Linked DNA regions of Homo sapiens: regions 1, 3 and 4 are each linked to region 2. Evidence: fine-mapped expression QTL. A gene starts in region 2. Each other region holds a variant in brackets. All regions are shown on one strand. Distances are from middle to middle. Region 1 overlaps LOC105375155 (a long non-coding RNA gene). Region 2 holds the start of VWDE (von Willebrand factor D and EGF domains). Region 3 overlaps VWDE (von Willebrand factor D and EGF domains). Region 4 has its middle 90 kb from the start of TMEM106B.

Region 1 (8,444 bases), 25 kb before region 2:
AAATAAGAGCCATAGAAATCTTGTGTTCATTTTTGTTATTGATTTTAAATTATTCTTGATTATGATATGATACATTAGTGGTATAATAAATAACTTCTTAGAAATTAATTAAGGTATACTTAAGGAAAAGCAATATAGCATGATTGAATAAAACATATGGGGTAGGCAGAGTGTCCCTTGTCAAGATAAAGAGTTAAGATACCAAAAATATATTAAACCAACTTCACAGATTTGCTCAGGAACTACCAAACAAATATATAGAAGCCAGATCCAGAGGCTACATATAAAATCTTTTATGAGGAAAATCATCTGCAACTCATACACTAATCCCAGAATGCATCTGTGAGTAGATAACAAAGCCCATTGTTTGGAAAATAATTTTGAAGTCCAGAGAATATTAATTTTAAAGTACATAGGAAGATTTTTTTCAGAAATAGGAATTTTCAGTAGGCCTTGATAAATTAGTAAACCCAGATGGAATATGGATGTCTTATTGTTATTTGATAACTTAAGTGGAAAAATACGGTCTCAGATAATTTGGTGATGTGACATTTCATTTTATAAACTAGTTGTTACTTACAGGGTATATCTATATAGGCATACTTGTAGTATTGTAGCAAAATGGATTCCAGAGGAAACTGCTGAATTTATATTAAAATAACTTGTTCATTATCAAAACAAGATCATCTTTAAAAATCTCATATTGCTTTGTACACTTGTTATAGAATATCCAAAGAATTAGGAAAAATAGAAATTCAAATTATTTAAACTGAACTTGTATTTTGCTTTAAATGTTGGCTGAAAACTCTTCATATCAGTTTCTTCTAGATAAAATTGGCACTGAGTTTATACTCAAATGAGAAGGCTGAAAGGAGTGAGGAAGTGTCATAGGTGAGTCTGAAAACTGAGCAATTAAGGTAGAAAAACATTTCAAAGAGCTCCTAGTTTAATAGATTGTATTCTCTTCTCCTTGCTTAATATTTCTGAAAAGTGAAAGCTTATGCAGTTGGTATGCATGAAAAGACCAAAATATAAGTTAAACCAGGTCATTTTAACATTTTAACTTCTGTGATTAATTATGTTTAGACACAGACCACTTTCCTCATAATTTTAGGAGCTTACTGCCACCTATGGATATGACTGGAGTATTACAATTTTCATTAGTTAATACAGTTCATCAATATTTATTATCAATATTGAATATTGAGTTAGGTACTGGGTAATCACATATGAATGGCTTATAGTATATTGGATGAGATAAACAGATAAAATTTCAGCATGATGAAATAAAAACAAATGTATTGAGACAAGAGTAAAGTTTAGTTTTCATTATGCGGATGTACAAAGCAGGAAGTATTAGGAGTGGAGGCTAAACCTTAGACACAATCCAGACAATGGCCAGATGTGTAGATTACAGGTGGTATGCTATGAGTTGAATCTTGGTCATTTTGTGTTCATTTGTTGATGGTATGAATATGAAGCTCAGGAAAAAGATCAGGACTGGAGGAGATACTTATGTATGAGCTGGTGGGTAAGAACAATAGGTACATTTGAGAGTGAATGGAACATACGATAATGTAAAGACAAAGTTTAGGTAAAGGAAAATTAGGAGAAACTAAGGAAACAGTTGCCCTTTTAATTATTATAACTGTGTCACAGAACTCTTTAAAAAAATGTATTAAAACATATGGTTTCTTGTTTTACAGCAACCTAGCAAATGCTGATTCTAGAAAAAGCCAACTTAAAAAAAGCACAAAAGCTTTGCATTATTTTTACTTGCCCTTGCCTCCCACCTACCCCGACTCAATGACAGTTTTGAAGCCAGCAGACTGCATTCTCAATAAAAGACCCTGGTTCCTGGTTCCGGAAAGGGCAGAGTAGTAGAACTTATTCTTAAACATAAATATTATTACTTTGTTTGGTAGTTTTGTCCTGTCGTGTAGCTTCCTGGAGGACAGACTCAAGGTATTCACCTTTGTTTTGTGCAACTCAGAAGTCTCTTAGGGCAGAAAAATGGCTGAGCAGAGTACATTCCTCAATAACATTATAAATCAAATGAAAAAACTTCATGCCATCTGGGGTGAGAGAGTTCAGTTGACACAAATAATAGAGACTCTAAAAACCTGGGGGAAAAATGTGGAAAGAGTTATTTGGGGAAAATTAGGGCATTGAAAAGTGCCAGTATACTGTGGAGTCTGTAAAGCCACATACATTCCCAGGGAAAAAGGATGCTCAGAAGAGACCCGAGAAGACCTTCACCTCTGGCTGAAATTTAGTCTCAGAGCAAGCAAGAAGTGAAATATAAGGAAGCATTGTGAAGGCCTGGCCAACCATTGAAGCATTGCCCCAACACAGAGCCAATCTATAAAGCCTGGAAGAATTTTTTTCCTTATTATTTTTTCTTTCTTTTATCTTGTTTTGTCCTTCTTCTTCTTTTTTTTCCCCAGGACTTCAGGAAAATCTCTTAAAAACACTAGTTAACCACAGGCAAAAAGAACAGAGATTCCTGAAACCATACATAACAAAGAATATAAACCATACAAAAACAGTACAGATAAGTCACTGGATAAATAATCACAACTCTCAGAAAACTACAGATCCAACATGAGGAATAGAAAGAACCTGATTTCTATAGTTAACACATTGTAATATTCAAAATGTCTAGTTTTCAACAAAAATTTATAAAGAATACAAAGAAATAAGAAAATATGGCCCATTAATTGGAGAAATTAGAAAGAATCTGATTTCTATCCCTGATGAAGCACAGACATTGGACTTACTTGACAAAAACTTTAAATAAAACTGTCTTAAATATGCTAAAATTGTTAAAGAAAACCATATAAAAAGAAATTGGGGTTCTGTTCCAAGATGGCCGAATAGGAACTGCTCCAGTCTGCAGCTCCCAGCATGTTCAACACAGAAGATGGGTGATTTCTGCATGTCCAACTGCGTTACCTGGTTCATCTCACTGGGACTGGTTGGACAGTGGGTGCAGCCCACAGAGGGCGAGCCAAAGCATGGCAGGGCGTCACCTCACCTGGGAAGCACAAAGGGTAGGGGGATGTCCCTTTCCTAGCCAAGGGAAGCCGTGACAGAGTGTACCTGGAAAAACGGCACACTTCTGCCCAAATACTGCACTTTTACGGTGGTCTTAGCAAGCGGCAGACCAGGAAATTCTCTCCTCTGCCTGGCTTGGTGAGTCCCACTCCCACAGAGCCTTGCTAATTGTTAGCACAGCAGTCTGAGATCAACCTGCAAGGCTGCAGCCTGGCTGGGGGAGGGGCATCTGCCATTGCTGAGGCCTGAGTAGGTAAACAAAGCGGCCGGGAAGCTCAGACTGGGCAGATCCCACCGCAATTCAGCAAGGCCTACTGCCTCTATAGACTCCACATCTGTGGGCAGGGCATAGCTGAACCAAAGGCAGCAGAAACTTCTGCAGATTTAAATGTCCCTGTCTGACAGCTCTGAAGAGAGTGGTGATTCTCCCAGCATGGCATTTGAGCTCTGAGAACAGACGGACTACCTGCTCAAATGGGTCCCTAACCCCCATGTAGCCTAACTGGGAGACACCTCCCAGTAGGAGCCAACAGACACCTCATACAGGTGGGTGCCCCTCTGGGACAAAGCTTCCAGAGGAAGATTCAGACAGCAATATCTGCTGTTCTGCAATATTTGCTGTTCTGCAGCCTCTGCTGGTGGTACCCAGGCAAACAGGGTCTGGAGTGGACCTCCAGTAAACTCCAACAGACCTGCAGCTAAGGGAATGTGTTAGAAGGAAAACTAACAAACAGGAATAGCATCAACATCAACAAAAAGGACATCTACACCAAAACTCCACCTGTACGTCACCAACATCAAAGATGAAAGGTAGATAAAACCACAAAGATGGGGAGAAACCAGAGGAGAAAAGCTGAAAAGTCCAAAAACCAGAGCACCTATTCTTCTCCAAAGGATTGCAGCTCCTCACCAGCAACACAACAAAGCTGGATGGAGAATGACTTTGACCAGTCGACAGAAGTAGGCTTCAGAAGGTTGGTAATAACAAACTTCTCCGAGCTAAAGGAGCATGTTCTAACCCATCACAATAAAGCTGAAAACCTTGAAAAAAGGTTAGATGAATGGCTAACTAGAATAAACAGTGTAGAGAAGACCTTAAATGACCTGTTGGAGCTGAAAACCATGGCATAAGAACTTCATGACACGTGCACAAGCTTCAATAGCTGATTTGATCAAGTGGAAGAAAGGGTATCAGTGATTGAAGATCAAATTAATGAAATAAAATGAGAAGACAAGATTAGAGAAAAAAGAGTGAAAAGAAATGGACAAAGCCTCCAAGAAATATGGGACTATGTGAAAAGACCAAGTCTAC[A/G]TTTGATTGGTGTACCTGAAAGTGACCAGGAGAATGGAACCAAGTTGGAAAACACTCTTCAGAATATTCTCCAGGAGAACTTCCCCAACCTAGTAAGACAGGACAACATTCAAGTTCAGGAAATACAGAGAACATCACAAAGATACTCCTTGAGAAGAGCAACCCCAAGACACATAATTGTCAGATTCACTAAGGTTGAAATGAAGGAAAAAATGTTAAGGGATGCCAGAGAGATAGATCAGGTTACTCACAAAGGGAAGCCCATCAGACTAACAGTGGATCTCTCTGCAAAAACTCTACAAGCCAGAAGACAGTGGGGGCCAATATTCAACATTCTTAAAGAAAAGAATTTTCAACCCAGAATTTCTTATCCAGCCAAACTAAGCTTCATAAGTGAAGGAGAAATAAAATCCTTTAGACAAGCAAATGCTAAGAGATTTTGTCACCACCAGGCCTGCCTCACATGAACTCCTGAAGGAAGCACTAAACATAGAAAGGAACAACCGGTACCAGCCACTGCAAAAGCATGCCAAATTGTAAAGACCATCGATACTAGGAAGAAACTGCATCAACTAATAGGCAAAATACCCAGCGAACATCAAAATGACAGGATCAAATTCACACATAGCTATATTACCCTTAAATGTAAATGGGCTCAATGCTCCAATTAAAAGACACAGACTGGCAAATTGGATAAAGAGTCAAGACCCATCAGTATGCTGTATTCAGGAGACCCATCTCATATGCAGAGACACACATAGGCTCAAAATAAAGGGATGGAGAAAGACCTACCAAGTGAATGGACAGCAAAAAAAAGCAGGGGTTGCAATCCTAGTCTCTGATAAAACAGACTTTAAACCAACAAAGATCAAAAGAAACAAAGCAGGCCATTACATAATGGTAAAGGGATCAATTCAACAAGAAGAGCTAACTATCCTAAATATATGTGCACCCAATACTGGAGCACCCAGATTCATAAAGCAAGTCCTTAAAGACCTACAAAGAGACTTAAGCTCCCACGCAATAGTAATGGGAGACTTTTAACACCCCACTGTCAATATTAGACAGATCAACAAGACAGAAGATTAACAAGCATATCCAGGACTTGAACTCAGCTCTGCACCAAGCAGACCTAATAGACATCTATAGAACTCTCCACCCCAAATCAACAAAATGTACATTCTTCTCAGCACCACATCACTCTTATTCTAAAATTGACCACATAATTGGAAGTAAAGCACCCCTCAGCAAATGTAAAAGAAAAGAAATTATAACAAACTGTCTCTCAGACCACAGTGCAATCAAATTAGAACTCAGGATTGAGAAACTCACTAAAAACTGGACAACTACATGAAATCTGAACAACCTGCTCCTGAATGACTACTGGGTAAATAACGAAATGAAGGCTGAAATAAAGATGTTCTTTGAAACCAATGAGAATAAAGACACAACATACCAGAATCTCTGGGACACTTTTACAGCAGTGTGTCGAGGGAAATTTATAGCACTAAATGCCCACAAGAGAAAGCAGGAAAAATCTAAAATCGACACCCTAACATCACAATTAAAAGAACTAGAGAAGCAAGAGTAAACAAATTCAAAAGCTAGCAGAAGGCAAGAAATAACTAAGATCAGAGCAGAACTGAAGGAGACAGAGACACAAAAAAACCCTTCAAAAATCAATGAATCCAGGAGCTGGTTTTAAGAAAAGATCGACAAAATAGATAGACCACTAGCAAGACTCATAAAGAAGCAGAAGAGGTAAGAATCAAATAGACATAATACAAAATGATAAAGGGGATATCACCACTGATCCCACAGAAATACAAACTACCATCAGAGAATACTATAAACACCTCTACACAAATAAACCAGAAGATATAGAAGAAATGGATACATTCCTGGACACATACGCCCTCCCAAGAGTAAACCAGGAAGAAGTGGAATCTCTGAATAGACCAATAACAGGCTCTGAATAATTAATAGCCTACCAACCAAAAAAAGTCCAGGGCCAGACGGATTCACAGCCGAATTCTATCAGAGGTACAAAGAGGAGCTGGTACCATTCCTTCTGAAACTATTCCAATCAATAGAAAAAGAGGGAATCCTTCCTAACTCATTTTATGAGGACAGCATCATCCTGATACCAAGCCTGGCAGAGACACAACAAAAAAAAGAGAATTTTAGACCAATATCCCTGATGAACATCAATGCAAAAATCCTCAATAAAATACTGGCAAACTGAATCCAGCAGCACATCAAAAAGTTTATCCACCATGATCAAGTGGGCTTCATCCCTGGGATGCAAGCCTGGTTCAACATATGCAAATCAATAAATGTAATCCATCACATAAACAGAACCTATGACAACACCCACATGATTGTCTCAACAGATGCAGAAAAGGCCTTCGACAAAATTCAACAGCCATTCATGCTAAAAACTCCCAATAAACTAGGTATTGAAGGAATGTATCTCGAAATAATAAGAGCTATTTATGATAAACTCACAGCTAATATCATACTGAATGGGGCAAAAACTGCAAGCATTCCCTTTGAAAACCAGCACAAGACAGGGATGCCCTCTCTCACCACTCCTATTCAACATAGTGTTGGAAGTTCTGGCCAGGGCAATCAGGCAAGAGAAAGAAATAAAGGGTATTCAAATAGGAAAACAGGAAGTCAAGTTGTCCCTGTTTGCAGATGACATGATTGTATATTTAGAAAACCCCATTGTCTCAGCTCAAAATCTCCTTAAGCTGATAAGCAACTTCAGCAAAGTCTCAGGATACAAAATCAATGTGCAAAAATCACAGGCATTCCTATACACCAAGAACAGAAACAGAGAGCCAAATCATGAGTGAACTCCCATTCACAATTGCTATAAAGAGAATAAAATACCGAGGAATACCACTTACAAGGGATGTGAAGGACCTCTTCAAGGAGAACTACAAACCACTGCTCAAGGAAATAAGAGAGGACACAAAAAATGGAAGAACACTCCACGCTCATGGATAGGAAGAATCAATATTGTGAAAATGGCCATACTGCCCAAGGTAATTTATAGATTCAATGCCATCCCCATCAAGCTACCAATGACTTTCTTCACAGAATTGGAAAAAACTAAAGTTCATATGGAACCAAAAAGGAGCCCTCATTGCCAAGACAATCCTAAACAAAAAGAACAAAGCTGGAGACATCACAGTACCTGACTTCAAACTATACTACAAGGCAGCTGTGCTTGGTGTCTCATGCCTGTAATCCCAGCACTGTGGGAGGCCGAGGCAGGTGGATCATGAGGTCAGGAGATCAAGACCATCCTGGCTAACATGGTGAAATCCTGTCTCTACTAAAGATACAAAAAATTACTGGGCATGGTGGCGGGTGCCTTTGGTCCCAGCTACTTGGGAGGCTGAGGCAGAAGGGCGTCAACCTGGGAGGCAGAGCTTGTAGTGAGCCGAGATCATGCCACTGCACTCCAGCCTGGGTGACAGAGCAAGACTCTGTCTCAAAAAACAAAAACAAAAACAAAAAGAAACTATACTACAAGGCTACAGTAACCAAAACAGCATGGTACTAGTACCAAAACAGATATATAGACCAATGGAACAGAACAGAGGCCTCAGAAATAACACCACACATCTACAACCATCTGATCTTTGACAAACCTGACAAAAACAAGAAATGGGGAAAGGATTCCCTGTTTAATAAATGGTACTGGGTAAACTGGCTAGCCATATATACAAAGGTGAAACTGGATTCCTTCCTTACGCCTTATACAAAAATTAATTCAAGATAGATTAAAGACTTAAATGTTAGAACTAAAACCATAAAAACCCTAGAAGAAAACCTAGGCAATACCATTCAGGACATAGGCATGGGCAAGGACTTCATGACTAAAATACCAAAAGCAATGATAACAAAAGCCAGAATAGACACAAGGGATCTAATTAAACCAAAGAGCTTCTGCACAGCAAAAGAAACTACCATCAGAGTGAACAGGCATCCTACAGAATGGGAGAAAATCTTTGCAATCTACCCATCTCACAAAGGGCTAATATCCAGAATCTACAAAGAA
Region 2 (8,019 bases):
CCTTATATTCTAGTAAGAAAACAAAAACAAAAACAAAAAAACAGACAATAAGCAAGGATACAGATTAAATATTTAGTTTAAGTTCTAAAATGGAAACAAATAGTGTAACGCTAGAGAATGACCTGGGGTAAGGAGCCAATTTAAACAGGGTGTTCAGGAGGCGAAATTCAGCTGAGACCTGTAGGATAAACAATCAGTCCTTCCAGGGGCAATGGTTGCCTTCTTTTAGGAACTTTTAGGAACGTTCACAAGGCTAGTGAGTTGAAGTATAGCACATATGAGAGCTGAGGAGGGAGAGTGGGAGTGGGAGAAAAGCAATGTATTTGAGTTTGAACAGGTAGGCAGGGGCTAGCTGTTGCAGGTAACAGTCCTCTGGTATTTTTACCCATTATCTATGGGAGGCCAGTGAAAGGTTTTAGGGCAGGGACATGGTGTGATTTACAGTTTGAAAGCTCATCCCGGTATTATATGGCAGAGATGTAGATTGAATGGGGCCTGAGTGAAGCTCAGAGAAAAAATGTGGTATTTTCTGCAGTGATCCACGTAAGTCATGGGGAGGCTTGACCAGCAGAGTGGCAGAGAAGACACAGAACAACAGGTGAGTGTGAGATTTCTTTGGACTCCTTATTCATGGATTGAATACAAAGGAGGAGTCATGAATGAGAGAGAAGGGAGGAGCCTCATGCCTTTTTCCTAGTTGGTGACGAGGGATACTCAATAGTGCCATTTTCCAAAACAGGGAAGACTAAAAGAGGAACCAGGTTTAAAGGGGCTTTCTAGGAATAACTAAATAAGTGATTGCTTTAATTCCTTTCCTTTAAAAATTACATTTTTCCCCCCTAATTCTTGATCAGTATGAAGCAGATATATCACAGGTAAAACATTTTTGTAATGCAGATTTTAGGGCATTCTCTTTTCAACTATCAACTGTTTTTCTTTATTACTATGTTTAATGAAACAAAATTGGTTCTCTCTTCATTCCTATCCAGCTTTTTCTCATTCATTTTCAACACTTTTAAAAAGAAGGAACTTTTAAATGCAGAAAAAGGAAAGAAACTATAAGACAGGAAGTTCAGCCTATGAATGAGAATTAGAGATGGGGTATATTTGGCAAATATTACTTATTGGGCTTCAGTACCACTGAATCTTTGTCTTTTCTGTAGCTATTTTCAGTTACAATCTCTATAACTGTCTACAATGAAGTTATTAATCATTTATAGGTGGTCATCTGGCTAGTTGGAAGGAAAAGCCAATGGTATTCTAGACTTTCTAGCACTGAATAATCTTCTTGTGAAACATATTGAGCTTGTCATAACAAAATCAGCTTAACTGCTGATTTTCTTTCATTCTGCAATGAACACACCATACTTTTCCCTGAAACTTTTTGATTGGATAGCTTCTATGTGGTCAAATGATGAGTCCATTTCCTCCTAAACAAACCACTGTAAGGTTTCAATACAAATCTCAAGTGCATTTTTCTGTTTCTTCTGGCAAATGCATAAGCACAACCAAATATTTAATAATTTATACAGTTTATATTTTCAAACAGGTTTTAGACAATATTCTTTTGTTTATAAACAACAACAGCAAAACAAATTCAAAGTCACTTAACCTTAATTTATAGGCAGTGTATTGGGGGTATCTCTTTTTTTTTTTTAAATTTGTTGTTTATTTTTTAATTAATTAATTAATTTTTTACATTTTATTATTATTATACTTTAAGTTTTAGGGTACATGTGCACAATGTGCAGGTTTGTTACATATGTATACATGTGCCATGTTGGTGTGCTGCACCCATTAACTCATCATTAGCATTAGGTATATCTCCTAAGGCTATCCCTCCCCCCTACCCCCACCCCACAACAGTCCCCGGAGTGTGATGTTCCCCTTCCTGTGTCCACGTGTTCTCATTGTTCGGTTCCCACCTATGAGTGAGAACATGCGGTGTTTGGTTTTTTATCCTTGCGATAGTTCGCTGAGAATGATGGTTTCCAGTTTCATCCATGTCCCTACAAAGGACATGAACTCATCATTTTTTATGGCTGTGTAGTATTCCATGGTGTATATGTGCCACATTTTCCTAATCCAAAACAGGAAACATAGGCAGTCCTCGAAAGATTCTGGAGCTGTTGAGTGGAAAGCCATCAGGAATTAGCATATCTCTCTTTCTGTCACTGTCTGTCTGTCTCTCTTCCTCTCTGTCTTTTTGTGTGTGTGTGCACGTGTGGACGTGTATGAGTGCTTTTCTCTGTTTCTCTATTCTCACATGTTGTTTCTCACCTCACCTTCATTTTGGTCATCCACTTTTGTCTTTTTCCTCCCTCAGCTGATCAGTTTTCATTACTTGACCACACTTATAGCCACATTCAATGAGTCCTCAACGGTGTCCATAGGTTATTGAAAACTGCGATGTAAAGTGAAACAACATGTAATGAAACCAGTTTTACTACAGACAAATTGATATCAACATGAGTTAAATTACTATACCATATTTCTGGTCACAAAAACATCACCAACTTCTAAAAAAAGACCAAAATACTTCTAATATTAAACAGTAAAATAAACTATACATACATTGAGTAAAGATTAATGAAAACAAGATAATTATTTACCTCCTTACTCCAGTTCAGGATCACAGGTGGCCAGATCCTACACCAGGAGCTCAGGGCATGAGGTGTAAACCAGCTCTCTTCAGGAAGCCATCCTACCGCAGGGCGCGCTCACATACCCAACCACAATCACTCAAGCAGGGCCTATGTAGACATGCCAATTCACCCAACACACAGAGAGTTGAGAAGTGGAGGGAAACGGGAGTACCCAGAGAAGACCCACATAGACATGGAAAGAACGTGCCAATTCCACATAGACATTGGCCTCTGCTGGAAATCGATTTTTTCCATCAGTGTTATAACAAAATAACGTTAAACAAAATGACCAAGGACCTGCTGTATGTTTTAGCCTCTGCTTCTGAGTGTACTTGTGTTCAGCTCAAGTAAACCCCAGAAGCAATCCTATCAATTTTACATTTCTGGAAAAGGGCTCACTCATTTAGTAAAACATGGGATGAGGAATTCATATGTTACATAAATATGTATTTTCCAGGAAGGTTACTCCAAACTGTGCAGACACTGTAATAGAGTAGTGCCAAGAAATGATGCACCTTTATATAATAAGACATAAGAGAAAGTATAATTATGTAGAATATTACCCTAGTTCTAATAACAGTAAACTGTTACATTCGACCATAATAGCTACTTTGGACCAAATGCTATTCTGAGTGCTCTTTCTCCAGATGCTCTTCCACGCTCCCAGCCACACACAGGCATGCACATACACTTTTGATTCTTTAAGTCTATGGGGTACTATTATTGTCATTTCTATTGTACAGAAAAATGAGGTTAAGAGGAGTTGAGTGTGCTGTTCAAGGTTACACTTCTGATAAATAGGTAGCAGATCTAGAATTACAGCCCAGGTGTTTTTAACCTAGGATTTGTGGACTTAATCACTGGGTTTTTCTGCCCCTTGAATTTGGTATTTTTTTTCACTCAAGCCCATCACTTTGTAAATTAACCTGACAAAAACTGAGTTATCTCCTTTTCCTAGAAAATTATCATTTGAAAATTTTCTCCTGTTAATCTTTTAATTTAAGCTATATTGTACTTATTAGCACTTGGCTTCATTTCTTCTTCCCTCTGACATTCTTATTATTTGTCTCAGTGATATTTACTGCATTTTACAAGTGCTGTCAGTCTCTATATTGCGGGGTACCATGCATCCATTGTTTTTAATGTTCAAAAATATAAAAAAGAATCTTATACCAATTTTTGATTAACTTCACGAGACATAGATTAAAACATTTTCATTACTTTTTGTTTTCCATACAGTTCTATAACTAATTTTTTTTTTTTTTTTTTTTTTTTTTGAGATGGAATCTTGCTCTGTCGCCCAGGCTGGAGTACAGAGGAGCTATCTTGGCTCACTGCAACCTCTGCCTCCTGGGCTCAAACGATTCTCCTGCCTCAGCCTCCCGAGTAGATGGGACTACAGGCGAACGCCACCACGCCCATCTAATGTTTTGTATTTTTAGTAGAGATGGGGTTTCACCATGTTGGCCAGGCTGGTCTTGAACTCCTGACCTCAGGTGATCCGCCTGCCTCGACCTCCCAAAGCACTGGGATTACAGGCGTGATATAACCAGCATTTAATTGATACATTCTTGCAGATCCAAGCCAGGTTACTGAGACTTGAAAAAAAATTCTTAAGTTGCTTTTAGTTTTTTCCATCTTTAGTCACATGGAGGGAAGTTGGGTTTTGGCACAAGTTTATTGTAAACTCATAAACTCATAAACAATCAAAAACTGAAGAAAAAAATAAGGCCCACGATACCTGAAATTGTATTTTGATGGAAGTCAGATAAGTAATGTTGTCCTCCAAGAAAGTATAAAAGTTTACTACATTTGTATAGATACTGCTAGAAAATAAATTCACAAAAGTCCTGCTATGATTTGATTCACATCAAATTACTTTGTTCCTGGTGATTTCACAAATAGATTGAGAAAACTGACATTTAATTTCTTGTCTGTTTTATTAGAATTTTTTAAGCGGAAACAAAAGACTTAACTGTACACTAAGAAATCTCTGGGTTTTCATTGTGCCTACATTATATTGCCCTTCCATACTTAAGCCTTAAGATAAAAATCACCTGTCTACCGTCCACCAAAAAGTAATATTTTATTTTTAATCCAGAAAATTGGGTGCCCTTGCTGCATTTGAAAGATGGCTACACACAAGTATTGTGTACCAAAAAGAAATTATTTCCAATATGGGTTAATATTTTTACTATGGAGATGATAAGCTTTAAAATTTTAAATGGTAATTTACCTTTCAAATTAAAAATAAAGAATTATATGAAATTAAAAAAATACTTGTTTATGCATTTGGACACCTCCTGTTTCCACCACCATGCCTAGGCCAACCTTGAACCTCCAAATTTGTGGGTGGAACCTTGGTGCCCACTTGGACCCCCAAACTATCCTCTTCAGGTAAAGGCTCTGTGAGAACCAAGTGCAAGGTGATGGATGGGAGACTCAAGGAATGAGACAGCCAGGGAAAAACTAGGACAGTGAGGTTTCATTTTCAGACATAAAAAGATGTAGAATCAGTTGAAAAAAGGACCCTGTTCCTCTGCAGAGGCAACCACACTTCTGAAGACCTTAGACCTGGCACGGTGGCTCACGCCTGTAATCCCAGCATTTTGGGAGACTGAGGGGGAAGATCGCTTGACGCCAGGAGTTCAAGGCTCCAGCGAGCTGTGACTGTGCCACTGCACTCCAGCCTGGGTGACAGAGTGAGACCTTGTCTCGAACAAAACAAAACAAAACAAAAACGAGGTTGGGGGAAGACATTAGAGCCCTCTGATCTTCTAATAACTCCCAGGTCAACCTTGGGAGTCGTGTGGCCATGTGCTAAAGCGTCCTGGGACAACTGTAAGAGCTCTGGGAATCACTGGCAAATACAGGTGACAAACCTCATGGTTTGGCTAGTGTCTAAATGCGGTCCTTTCCACTTCTGAAAACCTGTCACAGAGGCAGAAGAAAAGGCATCTACTGTTGCAACGTTAGTGTCTACTCCTCCTCCTGTCGTTCATCACTGAGATCTAAGGTGACAGGAGCATTTTCAGCGCCTTCGCCTTGGGGTGCAAACCAGTAGCGCCCATTACGCAGTTAGGAATCCGTCTGCAGATACAATCATGGGAAACTTCCCCTTCCAACGGAACCTTGTGAGGCTTCTTTTATGCGAGGTCCATCTGAGCAGTTTCTAGGATTACCAAGTTTTCATACAGCCTCTGTTAGAACAGCAAGACGCAGCGGGCGGAGAGCTACATCCCTGTAGCTTGACTCCTGGCTGTGCGACTGCACGGTGACATCCAAGGCGGCGGAGCCACTGCCGGTACACGCTGGGCTATGGGGACAGGTTGGGCGTGGCTTTCAGGTCAGCCAGCAGCCAAAATGGGAAGGGAGGAGTCGCAGACGGATTACGCGAAGGCTCTATCCCACGAAAGGACTGGGTGCACCCCAGAACGAGGACGCGGAGCTTCCCTGTTCCAAGCAGCAACAGACTGAGAAAATCCAAGAAAGGAGGCCCGAGGGGCTGCTGTGGCCCCATCCTCCTGGCACCCGCGGCCCGGGCTCTGCGACGCCTTTCGCCCCACCTGCGGAAGCAGCGATGCCTGGCGGAGCCTGCGTGCTGGTGATCGCGCTGATGTTCCTGGCCTGGGGGGAAGGTAAGCGAGGTAGGGCGCGCGGGGGTGGGCGCGCAGTGGCGCCGCGTGGGCGGTAGAGGGACTAGGCTAGACTTTTTGGACGACTTGGGGAGCGTCCCTGTGCGTTTTAAGGCAGCAAGCGATGTTTGTTCCTCACCCGCCTCCTCTCTGTCCCTCTGCTGTCTTTGAAAAGGTCAATTTCCAGCTTGAAAACTCTACACTTTTCTTTTGCGCACATGCGGTTGTTGCCTCCTCTTACTCTACGACCCTTGGTTCTGTTTTTGGTTGTTTCCTGCTGTTATCCTGCTCTTTGAGGTCATTGTAATTTACTGTAAGAAACTTTCGCCGGATCTGCAAGGTATGCTAGCCGCAAGTGGACCTGAATTCTCAGAACAGAGTTGAATTCCATACTGCACGAATTCCACCTCCAACCGGACCCTCAGAAATAATTCATTGGTGAACATTTTATCCCTACAATAAATCACCAAGTTAAGTTTTGTATATCCGTATTATACTGTATTATGGTTTTTGTATATATATGTTAGAATCAGTTTTGGCACTGTAAAAGAGATCTCTGTGGAGCGAATACTCCCCTCCTACTTCTTTAATCCATGACAAAGAACATTTAGTTTAAAATACAGTGAAGTTAAACCAAAACTACTTTCATTAGCCCTTTTTGCTTGTTTTTTGTGTTCATACAGATAGGAATATTAATGAAAGGTGACTTGTTCTTATATTGCAAGTTTCCTTACGTTTTTCAGAAAAAGTCTGATCTGTGTTCAACCATCTGCAGCTTGAAAAAACATTATGTACAACATTTATAGCAGTCCAGGGTATAGTTTTGTCTTATCATTTTTTGATCTTAACTCATTTTACTGATGTAAGTTTGCTTTGTATAAGGGGAATACAAACACTATCCTATACAAAACTTAAAAATAAAATACTAAAATCAAATTTATTATTTTCTGCAATGATATTTTTTCTGGTCCTTCTTTGGTTTGCTTACAGCGTTACTAAATCTTTATGAATAACTTTAAAAAATACATGTAATAACATATATCTGTTCATTACAGTTAGATAAATATTTCCAGGAAAAAAATGACCAATGTTTATAAAGGAAGATGATTTCATGTTTACTATAGACCGCATAACCCTTTTTTGCCTCTATATAATAGCTTTGTAATCTCTCTGCTGAAGACAAATATTACCCATTACCAGGTTTTAAGTTCATAACATTGGTAACATTGTCAAGTTCTTTATGTTTAATGGAGTAAAACTAGAAGACGAGGTAAATGGAAAATGCATTTATTGAGACTTCTTTTTTTCAAATAGCTTTATTAAGATGTTCATATACCATACAAATCACTCAAAGTGTGCGACTCTATGGTTTTTCATTTTCACAGATATGTGTATATTCAGAGTATATTTACAGGTATATGCAGCGATGACCACAGTCAATTTTAGAACATATTTATCAATCAGAAAGAAATACTATACCCTGGGCTATCATGCCGCATGCCGGCTATCACCCTCCCTTTCTCCCCAGCGATAAGGAATTACTAATCTACTTTCTGTCTCATTGCATTTGCCTATTCTGGATATTTTATGTAAACTGAATCATATAATAGGTTGTCTTTTGTGACTGGCTTACTTCATCTAGCACAGTATTATCAAGGTTCATTCATCTTGTAGCATGTACCAGTATTTCATTCCTTTTTAAGATAGAATAATGTTCCATTGTGTGGATATACTATATT
Region 3 (4,000 bases), 28 kb after region 2:
TTTCACAATGTTGGCCAGATGGTCTTGATTTCTTGACCTCGTGATCCGCCCGCCTCGGCCTCCCAAAGTGCTGGGATTACAGGCGTGAGCCACCGCACCCGGCCTTAAGTACTTTTTAAAAACATCCTAAATACAAAGCCTACTATACTTTATGTTGAGGTTTGAATACGTCATATTTTATAATGATGGAATTTTTCTGAAATATCAAGTAAGCTTTTAAATTATTTAATTCTTTTATTATCTTTATATACTATCTATGAAGAATTAAATTTAGGATTTTAAAAGTGATAATTTACACGTTTTCTCCAAAATTGAATTTCTAAGTGATTATTTTTTAATTATATCCATAGATATTCTGCAGCGCTTCTGTCTTTTTCTTGGAGAATCCTCATGTACAAAGTGTAGCCATCGAAAGCCAAGAATTTTTTGCAGGCTTTAAGGTACGCAGCAGTGGGGATGCATCAGAAAGATTATTCCTCTGGAACTATGTTTCCCAAACTGTGATCTGTCCATGCTGGTTTCTGTACCTCATCACAGACTGAATCGGAATGTTGAGACCCATGAGTCCCCATATTTGAAGAAAAGCCCCAGTAATTCTAATGCGCAACAAAGTTTGAGGGGTCTTGTTAACTAAAGTTGAGATGTACCTTCATTTTTTAAAGAAATAGCTCAAATTAGAGTAAAGCAGAAGGTCTATTCCTCTAATTCATTCCATCGTGTAACGAAAGTTAGCCTAGTAATATTTAGTTATCATGCATTTTGGAAGACAGATACCAGGCCAAGTAGTAGAGTCTCTGACTAGAGTAGAATTGACCCAGAGCTATGAGTTTTATGGACTGCAAAGATTGAGCTAGCTAAACAGAGGAGGAGATTTGGTTGTTGCTGGTGGCAATAGGATCCAAGAACTGAAGAGCTATTCTAGCAGATGAGCAGAGATGACAGGGAATTAATAAGCAGTGGAAGAAGTGGGGGCAATATCAAACGGTCCAGGCAGGCAAGCACGGTGAACCTGGAAGGTCTCACCCACAGGACTCGAGTTTGACCTGGATTCATTTCTCGTTCAAGGACAAGATGAGATAAATGGTAAGATTGTGAGAATAGGACTCAGGACCAGGATAAACCCTGTTTATGAATAAAGTCCATGTACACACAGTAGGAACCAGGAAAAGAAGTGAGAAGAGTGGACCACTTTGTCAGAATTGCATAACTACAGCGTGAGGGGAAGCAGAGGTCAAGCTTTGAGAACACAGGAACATTTTGGTTTACATTGGTTAGCACTCAGCAGACAGTGTCAGGGGTCAATAGTCAGCACCCCCACCCTTGTACCCTTTCTGATTAGGCTAACAGGGAGAATATTCAGTATTAAGAATCATCTGTTTTGAGAGCTAGCCAAGACTCGAGACTGCATGGAAACATTCCTGCCTCAAAAAAGGTTTGGCCTGTGAATGAAGATAGGGCCAGTCCTGGGTTGCACCAGTTCTCAGGAAGTTCAACTCTGGAAATCAGATGCTGAGAAATAAGCTAAGTGTGGAGATATTTCAGGTGACAACAATAATTTGATTTATGTATTAAAAGTACTTAAATTTCTAATTGAGATGGTGGTATTAATCCCTAAGAAAAACCAGAGTCTTCTGTTGGTGTGTCAGTAAACATTAGCAATAAAGTGGAAGAAAATAGAAATATTTCTTTCTTCTTC[G/A]CTTTCCAGTGCTCACCACAGAACCAGAATCATTGAGGCAGGCTTGGATATGATTTGCCAAATGTGTTGGGGAACCAAAGTGAGTCAAACTCAGAGCAGTACAGCAGCTCCATGTACTCCTGTGTGTGCTGCTTGTATTTGTATAAGTTTGATTTTAATGGTCTTGCTTAGTTAAAACATTCTAGGGCTTAAGTTATTATTTAGTAAAATATGTGCTGTTGAGAAAATGCCCTTTCAAAACTGTGCCTTAGAAATAAATTATATTTTAACATAATTTTTCTACGTATTTTCTTATACCAGCTACAGCCTGAATTGAGCACTATATCAGAGGATGGGAAAGAATACTACCTGAGGATAGAAAGCACAGTTCCTATTATTTGTTCTGAATTTAGTGAGCTTGATCAAGAATGCAAAATCTCATTAAAACTGAAAACTATTGGTCAAGGTAATATACTAACTTTATTTTATCTTATTATTAGATTGCAAACAATAATGCTTTTTTTTCCTGTAGGAAAAGTCACTGGAGTGTACTCATATAATAAATCATGTTGCATGTTGACATCAAATTTTAGCCCAATCATATTACTAATACTCGGCCAAACTGACGATTGCCAAAGCAATTCACATTTCTTCTTCTTGGCTGAAAGCATACATTTTAAAAAAAGAAAAAAAATAGTGAATAATCTCCTCTTCGTCATCATCTTTTTCCTCTCGCTCCTCTTTTTTTCTCCTATTTTTTTCTCATTCTCCTGTTTATTCCTCTGTTTGCTTAGTTTACAGAAAACGAGGGAAAAACTGCTCTTTAAGATTTTTCAAATCATCCCCAATGAGAGACATTTGATAAGTTACGTTAAAAGTTCAAGCTTATGAAATATAGATCTCATAATGCATCCTTCAAGTTTCTCTCCCTAACGTACGTTTATGTTTGGGATCTTGTGTCTTAAAATTCTTCTATTTCAATTACTGATTATATGGATGTTGTGATACATGGCCACATATGTGTCAATGGATAGAGTGAAGAAATCCTCCCACATAACAAGATAGAATATGCGAGGACAAACCATGCATAGCAGTGATTGGCTTGATTATGTTCTTTTTCCCACTGAGCCCCTGATGTAGAGATCAAAGCAAGTTACAGATACATAAAATATAACCTTTAAGAGAGATTACAATTTCATTGGCATACCACATACATTTTCACCGTAGAACATTACATTGTCTTTAGTAAATATACCAAACACAAGGTATCTATAGACCTTCATGTCCATATTATAAATAATTAAATCAGAGAAACAAGAAGATAAAAAAGCCAGGAGAGAGAGAGAGAGAAAGAGAATCATTTGGAATGATGCACTCAAGAAAAGAGATGGCTAAAGAGATAGAGGAATTAAGAGAGGTCATCTTAGGATTGTTAACAGTAAGCAGGCTCAGTAATACCTACCTACTCGCTCAGATTTCAGGAGCACCACGAGCAACATTGTATTTTTAATTACAGCCTAGACATATTACATTATACCCTCTCTCGGACTATTTGACACAATTCTACTTCAAGTTAGCTCTGAAAAGTGTATTATGCAAATATTACTATAGTTTATGGAGAGAACAGAAAGAGGATGATGTTATTGATGTTTTCCAAAATCATGTTAGTCAAAGATTTTCTTCAGTTACAGGTATACTTTAAAATATATTTTCATGCTTTCAATTCTTTCAACAAGGCAAGCATTGCTAAAATAATATAATAATAGCCTAAATATATTTCTACATTTTAGAAGTTTGCATGCATGTTCTTATTCTCTGAGAATTAAAAATGGCTTTTGTTTGTTGAAGAAAAAATTCTGGATTTCATTCTGGATACCCCTCATCTTGTCCTCTTTAAGTACAGTAGCATTAAATCTTTACTTTCATAGGGAACCAGTTGGTGTCTGAGTGTATTTCTAAACAGACTATGCTGCTATTCACAGGCTTAAAGAGAACAACCCCTCATGTATTGGCTTGAGGAATGGATGTTATGGGCTATATCTAAGCTAGAAATATTCTGTATTCACCTTAGAGAGTTGGTTAAGAGTTTGAATGTTTCTGTTATTTTTTATGTGCATGGGAAAAGTATATATTTCTAAAAAAATAGTTCAGTATGCCTATATCTGATTAATATAACTTCATACCTAAAAAATCTGTATGGAAGAAAAGAAGATAGAACATTTTTTAACAACTTTTTTCCTTTTAGATTCTTAGGAGGACTTTGGAATCATTAATTGGATATGATAGCATACTTCCTCTCTGACCAATTTTGGGGGCAAATCTGTT
Region 4 (8,444 bases), 100 kb after region 2:
TCCTTTTATGCTGAGTCAGTTCCTGGTTGTGGGGCACAGGACTGGTTGGCAGGTCCAGGTGGGGCCATCTTGTTGTCAGAAGTGCAAAAACCTGAAGAGACATCTCAAAAGGCCAATCTTAGGTTCTATAATAGTGATGTTGTCTTCAAGAGTAATTGGGTAAGTTGGAAATCTTATGACCTCTAGAATAATGGCTGGAAGTTATTTAGAATTCAAACCCCTCTCATCCTAACTTGGTGGCCTTTCATTAGTTTTACAAGGAGAGTTTTGATTTTCAAAAGGGCTATTATTTCAACTATAAACTGAATTACCTCCAAAGTTTGGCCCATCCCAAGGAATGAGTGAAGACAGCCAACATATGAGACTAAAGACAAGTTAGAGTCAAGCATGTCATATTTCTCTCACTGTCATAATTTTCTCAGGTGTAATTTTTTTGCAACAGGTATAATGACTGTTATACCCATTGCAGATGAGGAGTTAAGGAAGATGTTTCCCTTTCTTGAATGAACTACTTGATTATTGCCCTAAGCAATTCTTATCTAGGTTGCTCACTGTAATCTGTGCCCTTTGGCTTTGTAAATTTCTCCAAACTAGTATAAAGAGAGTAGACTGGCTTGGGAAGTGTGATTTCAGGGGACAAGCTGGGGGTCCCTCTGTTCCATACAATCTTTGGTAGATTTGACCTCTGTTTTAACCCCATTACTGTCGATTATATTCATTCCATTTTTAATAACTATGTAAAAAGTTTCCTAAGTTTGCATTTCTAAAGATAAAGATCTTATATAGAACAAGTTAGAAAATTTACATCTCAAAGGCACATAAGTTAAATTTCCGGCCTAAATGCCATTATTTGCCTAGACAAAGAAAAGTATAGGTAGGAAGCACAGTTAAAATAAAATGGTCAAAGGTGAGGTTTGCTTAGACCAATGCTCTCCCCCATTGTAAGAATTTCTGCTCATTTTCCTTCATAGATATATCTTTTTTTCAAAAGAGTTTCAAAATAGCTAAATGTTAAAAAGTTACATTTTTGAGCCTAATTTAGTTCCATAGGTGTTCTGTTTAACTTGGTTTTGTTAGCAGTGGTGCATCCATACGGGTCTGCAGCAACTTGATTCTTGCCTTCTTAGAGAAAAGAATTCTACCCAGGTGCATAAGGCAGAGCAAGAATGGCAAATTTTAGAGCAGGAGTGAAAATTTATTAAAAAGTTTTAGAGCAGGAACAAAAGGAAGTAAAGTATACTTGGAAGAGGGCCAAGTGGGCAACTTGAGCTGTCCAGGTGCCTTGTCCAATCTTTGACTTGGGGTTTTATACATTGTCATGTTTCTGTTATTTGTTTTTCTTCTCTCCTGATTCTTTCTTGGAGTGGGCTGTTTGCATGTGCAGTGGCCTGCCAGCACTTGGGAGGGGACACATGTGCAGTGTGTTTACTGAAGTTATGTACGTGCTCATTTAAGAAGCCTTTTTCCCTTACAAGTCGAGTGTTGAGAAAGATGTGGAGGTAATTAGAGAAATGGAGGAAAATTTGTATTTGAGGTTCCATGTCCTGTTGGAGTAACATGCAGAAGACAAATGCTTAAACAGACAGGACAATTCCTCTGCTGCAGGAGGAAGTGGGAGAAAGCAAGAAGAATACTCATAGAAAGCTTCCATACACTCACAAAAACAGCATCCCTTGGATTCGAGAGGGCAATGTTGATTTGCCCTCTTGACATAAAGGAGGAAATTCTGAATGACTTGGGGCTTGGGATAAGGGCTCGCAAATGGCAAAGGAATAATTTTCCCTCCTCCCAAAGGGGTGCTGGCTCAAAAAAAGCAAGTAGGTGGGGTCCTTAAATGGCCACAGACGGAGATCCTATGAAGGCAGACAAATTTCACCAAAAGCCAAAAAAACTTGGCCCTGAAGAATAACAGGGACAAAAGATATATGGTGAATCATAAGGAGCTGGCAGAGCCAGGGTTCCAATTAATGTCTTTCCTGGCAGTGAGCCAAAAGACATCCTTAAGAGAGCCTGTTTCTTTGCTGCTGCACAAACACAGCACGAGCTACACCATGAATAACAGTGTATGTTTCAGGCAGAGAAGGAAGTCATAAGGCACGTAAAGTGAAAGCAGAGAATAGGCAGACTTGTCCCTAAGGTGAATAGCCTTGTGGGTTTTCAAGCCCATTTCAAAATATACACAGAGAAAACAGGAGAATACGCAGTGCAGGTTTTTTGGAAAGAGTTTATTTTAGTTGATAAATCAGAGGAAACCCCAGACGTTGCACAGTGTTAGGCTTTAGACCTACCATTCTCATGAGCCTCCTGTCCAGCAGGGCCATGAGTGTCTCAGGTGTACTCAGTGCAGACTCCAAGGTTCTTTCTACTCCTGTGAGTCACTGTCAGGGTGAGCTGAGAGATCAGCCAGGGGAAGTAGAGCCACTGTGACTGACAGAAATCATCCTGAGGGTTGGTTAGTAAGCAGGAGAGCAAAGGGGGAGAAGGAAACCTCATATGGGGATTGAATAACTCCAGGCAAAGGAGGCAAGGCAGAGAGAGATCTTACAACTAGGTAACGTATCTGAGTCACAACACCAAAGTATGTTAGTTGCAGCAAATACATATGCATGTGTAGCAACTGGATTCTTGCCTCCTTGGAGGAAAGAATTCAACTGAGGGGCCTAAGGTAGAGGGAGAAACCAAGACAAGTTTTGGAGCAGGAATGAAAGTTTACTAAAAAGTTTTAGAGCAGAAACAAAAGGATATGAAGTGCCCTTGGAAAAGGGCCAAGCGGTCAATTTAAGTGATCCAAGTGCCTTGTCCAACCCTTGACTTGGGGGTTTTATACATTGGCATGGTTCCAGGGTTTGTTTCTTCTCCCTTGATTCTACCTTGGGCTGGGTTGTCCATGTGCACAGTTGCCTGCTAGCACTTGGGAGGGGCAGCATGCACAGTGTTTCCTGAAGTTGTGCGTATGCTCATTTGAGGTGGTTTTCCTTTACCAGCTGAGGGTTCCTAGAGGAAGGTCATGTAGCAGTTAAACTCTACCATTTTGCCTCTTAGTGTGGATACTTGAGCCCACTTACCCAACTCCTAAGATCTTACCAGGAAGCTGCTGCTCACCAGGTTCAGGTGTTTTCTATTGTGAGACTGCCCTTTCCTGGCACCAGGTGCGACCAATTATTATTTTAGAAAGACAGTTGAACAAGCTGTCTGATCACCTGATGGCCCCCTGACATTCCTGTCAGGGGAAGGCCTCTCTTGCCCTGCACATGTCTGCCTAGCTACCTACTCTAACAGTTTCTGTTTTAGGAAACAGAATCTTCTGCTTTTAAAACAGAATTCTAAATTCTAGATTCAGTAATCCAGAACTTAGATTCTAGATTACTCAGTTTATTTAGGGTGGGCTCCATTAATGAATAGGGCAAACAAGCATTTTCTATGCCTGGACTCCACATGGATAACTCTGAAAAGGAAGAAAACCTTCTTTACATGAGGGCCAAAATTACTTTTTATTTAGCTTTCTTTATTCCTTTAGGGAGGAATAGTAACTATGCTAAAGGTTGACAGATTCAATTTTTTAAATCAATTAGTCTCTTAAGCTTTTTAATTGCCTTTTGTAAACAAGTCTTTTAAAAGATGCAATAAAAATTGTACTGAAATCTTTCTAGAGGCTTCCACACATCAATAGGAATCCCTGGGTAAGCCTAATTTGGTACCCCTCATTTTTAAGTGCACTTTTTAAAGTACAGTATTCTTCATCTGGGAGGTTCTATATAATGGCCATTGTAATTCTCCATTATCTTAAAAAAGATTTTGCCTTTAAAAATTTGAGGCTACCAGTGCCTAATATTTATACGTATAAAAAGCAGGCATAGCTGGAAAGTGGAGTGGTCAGTTCTTTAGAAATTAAGGATCTTGTTTTTATTCTGGCCCTTGGGTCAATCAGAGCAGAGATAAAATCCTATGATGAAAAGACCAGAGCATTGTGTATTCTAATACTTTCACAGAGTACCTCATTGCGCAAAGTTTTCTTGAAGCTGATGGGTGACCTACATCAACTAACCCATTTTTGTGACCATGGGAGTCTTATTTTGGTGGTGACTGCTCCAATACCTCTTAGGTGCCTATTCCATGCCTGTTACTGGTAATTAGTCAGGTATGAGCGTGGCAGGAGACGGTTCCACCCACCCCCACCCCTATCCCCACCAGGAACGTCAGGCAATCATCAGGTGACCATTCAGCAGCTATCACAGTAGCTCTCTAAAAATGATAATTGGCAGCCAGTGCCAGGGAGAAGCAACTTCCTGATGGTTGACAGTTTTCAAACTAAAGTGATAATTAATTGCAGGCAGCAGGGAGAAGCAATTTCCCAAACAGATAAAAACACTTGACATTGGTAATCAGCTTCCAATAAAATCTCAGGAATTGGCCAAGTGAGCTCAGGCATGCGCATTAAGAGACAAAATAGCAGAGTATGGCTTTCTGGGGGCATTCCACCAGAAAAGGGAAAACCCAGGTGGGCATGCATATAACTTCCTAAACACACTGTGCATGCTCACCTCCCAAGCATAAGGAGGGCACTGCACATGTGGGCAGCTCACCCTTCAGAAAGAATGTAGGGAAAGGGATGCAAGAGGTCAGAAGTGGGCCAGCACATAAAAGTCTTAGGATCAAGTTTAAATGGGGAACTTGCCTTCACACTGCCCACTTGAATCTCTTCCAAATGTACTTTCCTTTCTTTCCTGCTCTAAAGCTTTTTAATAAACTTGCACTCCTGCTCTGAAAGTTGCCTCAGTCTCTTTTTCTGCCTTATGCCCCTTCAGTTGAATTCTTTCTTCTGATGAAGCAAGAATTGAGGTTGCTCCAGACCTGCACAAATTTGCTGCCACTAGCATGCCCACCAGTCAAGTTTGTGTCTTTGGCTCTGAGATTGCCTTGACCAACATAGCTAATAATTTTTCTCTACCTAAGCATGCAAGAAAAAAACACATTTCTGAAAACTTTCAAAAGCCAAAGTTCATACTTCCGGCGGTAATTGCCATTTACTGCTAGTTTCTGCCTGACTTAGTCAAACACCTGAGGCCTCCCTACAGAACCCAATCCTGTTTCTGTTGTGACTTTCACTCTTATCGGTGACTTGTCAACCACACA[C/A]CCCAAGGTTGGTACTCTCTTTTACAGCACAATCTAAGCCTGGATTCAAAGGCCAAAAAGATCTGGGTTGGGGGAACACTCAATGCAAGAAGAACAGAGTCTGATCCAAAATGAAGTTGCAGCATGTAGCGGTCCATAAGGAAGAAAGGGGATCCATGAAGGGGTCAATGGAGGCTCTCCTGTGTTCCTCAATAAGTCTCATAAATTTTCAGCAGCATTTTGGGTCCCCTTCTTCTGGTAACCAGATACTGTCAAAAGACAAAATTACAATAAACTTAGTTTAAATATCCTAATTGGCTTTTATTTGCAATTTTAGAATCAGACAACACATTATTCGATAAAATAAAATGAATGTCCTGATGAACTGAGCAAAGTTATTTGGCTTTATAGACAGAAAAGTGCTAAAGATAGCAGAAACAGAGAACAAAAAGACAATTGGTGTTTTGAAATTGCTTTCCTTGTAAAGGTTACTTCCTTATCATGCTGGCTAAAACTGGCCTGTTTGGAGATTCTGCTATGATGGAAATAAAAATATTTTACCCCAAAATAGATTTCTTTGACATATTTTGAGATGGCTGTTCAGAGAGAGAGCAAACTGACATAACCCTGAAGGGTTATCTTTTGTAGGAGAGATTTGCATCTGTAGAATATCTACATTAGTGAGCCCAGGTTTTCTCTGAGGCCTCTCCTTGTCTGGATCAAGGAAAAATTAACTGAGAGTTCAACACCTTTAAAGGTTTTTAAAAGCATTTACTATCTATTCTCTCTGAGGGCTGCTATCCTCAGAGAGGGTAGGTTTCATTTACATAGCAAGACTATCTTTGTTAGACAGGCCTCCTCTTCTCCCCCTCTCATATCCTGCTTTACCACCTGTATTAGTCCATTTGCATGCTGCTGTTAAAGACATACCCGAGACTGGGAAGAAAAAGATTTTTAATCATCTTACAGTTCCACGTGACTGGGGAGGCCTCACAATAATGGCAGACAGCAAAGAGGAGCAAGTCACGTCTTACATGGATAGCAGCAGGCAAAGAGAAAGAGAGCTTGTGCAGGAAAGCTCCCATTTTTAAAACCATCAGATCTTGTGAGATTTATCCACTATCATGAGAATAGCATGGGAAAGACCCACCCTCATAATTCAATTATCTCCCACCAAGTCCTTCCCACAACACATGGGAATTATGGAAGCTACAAGATGAGATTTGGGTGGGGACATAGAGCCAAACTGTATCACCACCTTAACCTGTTTTGCGAGCAATCCAAGCCCTTATTCTTTCTGTAACCTCAAGATGTTATAAAAACATCTGAACACCATTCCAGGGTAGGGTAATTACATTGTAGTTCTCCCTTGTATGATTGCTAACAAATCTGTATGCTTTTTCTTCAATTTGTTTTTTGTAAGTTGACTTTTCAGTGAAACTTCAGAGGGTGAAGGGAAGGTTTTCCCCTGTCCCCTGCAGCTATAATCTCTCTCCTGATTTCTTGAAAGATCTGATAAACAACTTAGTTTTGGCTTGGTGGCTTTGAACTTCGGCATAAATAACTTCATTTTGGCATAAGTAACTTCATTTTGGTTTGGCCTGTTGGGCGTAGTGCAGAAGCCCAGTTCAAATAATAGCTTTCTATAAATTTTACTTAACAATCATTTTGATGAGAAATGGCAAATAACTAGGTCAATTTTTCCAACTGTAGGGACCAAGGGGAACCCTTATAACCACCCAACAGGTTCACTTTGCCCAGTGCCTAGACAGAGCTGATTTATCAAGACAGGGGAATTGTAATGGAGAAAGAGTAGTTCACGCAGAGCTGGCTGTGTGGGAGACCAGAGTTTTATTACTATTCAAATTGGTCTCCCCAAGCACTAGGGAATCAGAGTTTTTAAGGATAATTTGGCGGGTAGGGGCTCAGGAAGTGGGGCATGCCAACTGCTCAGGCTGGAGATAGAATTATAGGGGTCGAAGTGAGTTTTCCTTGCTGTCTTCTGTCCCAGGGTGGGATCATAGAACTGGATGAACTACATTACCCTTCTGGGTGGTGTCAGGTGATCCATCAAGTGCAGGGTCTGCAAAATATCTCAAGCACTGATCTTAGGATTTACAATAGTGATGTTGTTCCCAGGGGCAATTTGGGGATGTTCAGACTGTTGTAGCTGGAGGCTGCGTGACCCCTAAACCTTAATTTCTAATCTTGTAGCTAATTTATTAGTCCTACAAAGGCAGACTGGTCCTCAGACAAGAAGGTTTTTTTTTTTTTTTTTTTTTTTTTTTTTTTTTTTAAAGAAAGGGCTAGTATCATTTTTGTTTCAGAGTTAAAGGTTAGTTCAGCCTATGCCCAGGAACGAACAAGGACAGCTTAAAGGTTAGAAGCAAGATGGAGTTGGTTAGGTCTGATCTCTTTCATTGTCATAATTTCCTCCGTTATAATTTTTGTAAAGATGGCTTCACCCTTGGCCCTCTGGAGGTTTGCTGAAAAAAACCAACTTGCAAAGGGCAGATTAATAATAAAAAAAAAGGGCATATAAATTTATGTAATATGTATGCATAGGAGACTTCAGAATGAAGATTTTACCCCCAGTGTGGTACAGATGCTTATGCATCATCTTGAGGTTGCAGAAGGAATGTGGGCTCAGAACATGACCCAAAACAGGTTATGCTGGTAAATCAGGTCTTAGTGGCAAGACAGATTCTGGGAGGGAGGAAACAGGAAGCTTAGCTAGTAAAGGTGGCGTTGTTATATAGATGAAGCTTTGCTTCACAGGCAGCAGCCCTTGGAGAGAATAGATGGTAAGAGTCTTTTTCAGACTTTTGAATGTTTCAGACTCAGTTAATCTTTCTCAGTTAATCTGAATAAGAGACGGGCTGGCTGCATTAATGTAGATTCTCTGCACATCTACAAATGCAAATTTCCCCCACAGAAGACAGCTTTGCAGGGCCACTTAAAAATATGCCAAATTAATATATTTTGGGGTAAAATTTTTTATTTCCTTCACACTCCAAAATCCACTGTACCCTGCTCCCCATTCTTGAGCTTTCCTTCTGACCTCACTGTGCTTTTAAATAAATAAAATGACCAGAAATAAAATCATAAATGCTGATGTGACAATTGTTTAATAGTCATGTTTCTAGTTCTTAGGTTGAAGGTGTCTTAAATTATCATCAATATTTCATCACATATAAAACATAGTTCAGCTATTAAATTGTAGAACATTTAAATCGGGAAAGAAAAAAAAATCCAGTTAAGATCTGGACTCTAACAATCCAAGAGACTAAAAAGTTTTAGTACCTATGTTTTGGAGTTGGTAAATTAAGCTT

The links. PIP is the estimated chance that this variant, and not a neighbour inherited with it, causes the effect.
Region 1: its variant is fine-mapped to the expression of VWDE in whole blood (TOPMed, PIP 0.96).
Region 3: its variant is fine-mapped to the expression of VWDE in unexposed skin (GTEx, PIP 0.98).
Region 4: its variant is fine-mapped to the expression of VWDE in whole blood (TOPMed, PIP 0.97).

Annotation. Positions count from the first base shown.
Region 1 is chr7:12,426,903-12,435,346 of GRCh38, reverse strand. It overlaps LOC105375155 (a long non-coding RNA gene), which reads left to right. Exons shown (of 3, transcript XR_927036.2): 2 at 819-891; 3 at 1,707-1,951. Among named protein-coding and RNA genes, the nearest start is that of VWDE, 27 kb to the right of the region's middle. The variant A/G (reference allele first, on the strand shown) is at 4,370.
Region 2 is chr7:12,401,923-12,409,941 of GRCh38, reverse strand. VWDE (von Willebrand factor D and EGF domains) reads left to right here and starts at 6,077. Exons shown (of 29, transcript NM_001135924.3): 1 at 6,077-6,283. The coding sequence starts at 6,226. It overlaps LOC105375154 (a long non-coding RNA gene), which reads right to left and starts at 3,804. Exons shown (of 3, transcript XR_927035.4): 1 at 2,613-3,804; 2 at 2,286-2,404; 3 at 1,516-2,126. RefSeq lists silencers at 5,155-5,344, 6,282-6,331, 6,225-6,519 and enhancers at 5,656-6,221, 6,222-6,789.
Region 3 is chr7:12,375,917-12,379,916 of GRCh38, reverse strand. It overlaps VWDE (von Willebrand factor D and EGF domains), which reads left to right. Exons shown (of 29, transcript NM_001135924.3): 6 at 351-440; 7 at 1,997-2,141. Among named protein-coding and RNA genes, the nearest start is that of VWDE, 26 kb to the left of the region's middle. The variant G/A (reference allele first, on the strand shown) is at 1,697.
Region 4 is chr7:12,297,268-12,305,711 of GRCh38, reverse strand. No RefSeq gene overlaps it. Among named protein-coding and RNA genes, the nearest start is that of TMEM106B, 90 kb to the right of the region's middle. RefSeq lists a silencer at 1-163. The variant C/A (reference allele first, on the strand shown) is at 5,134.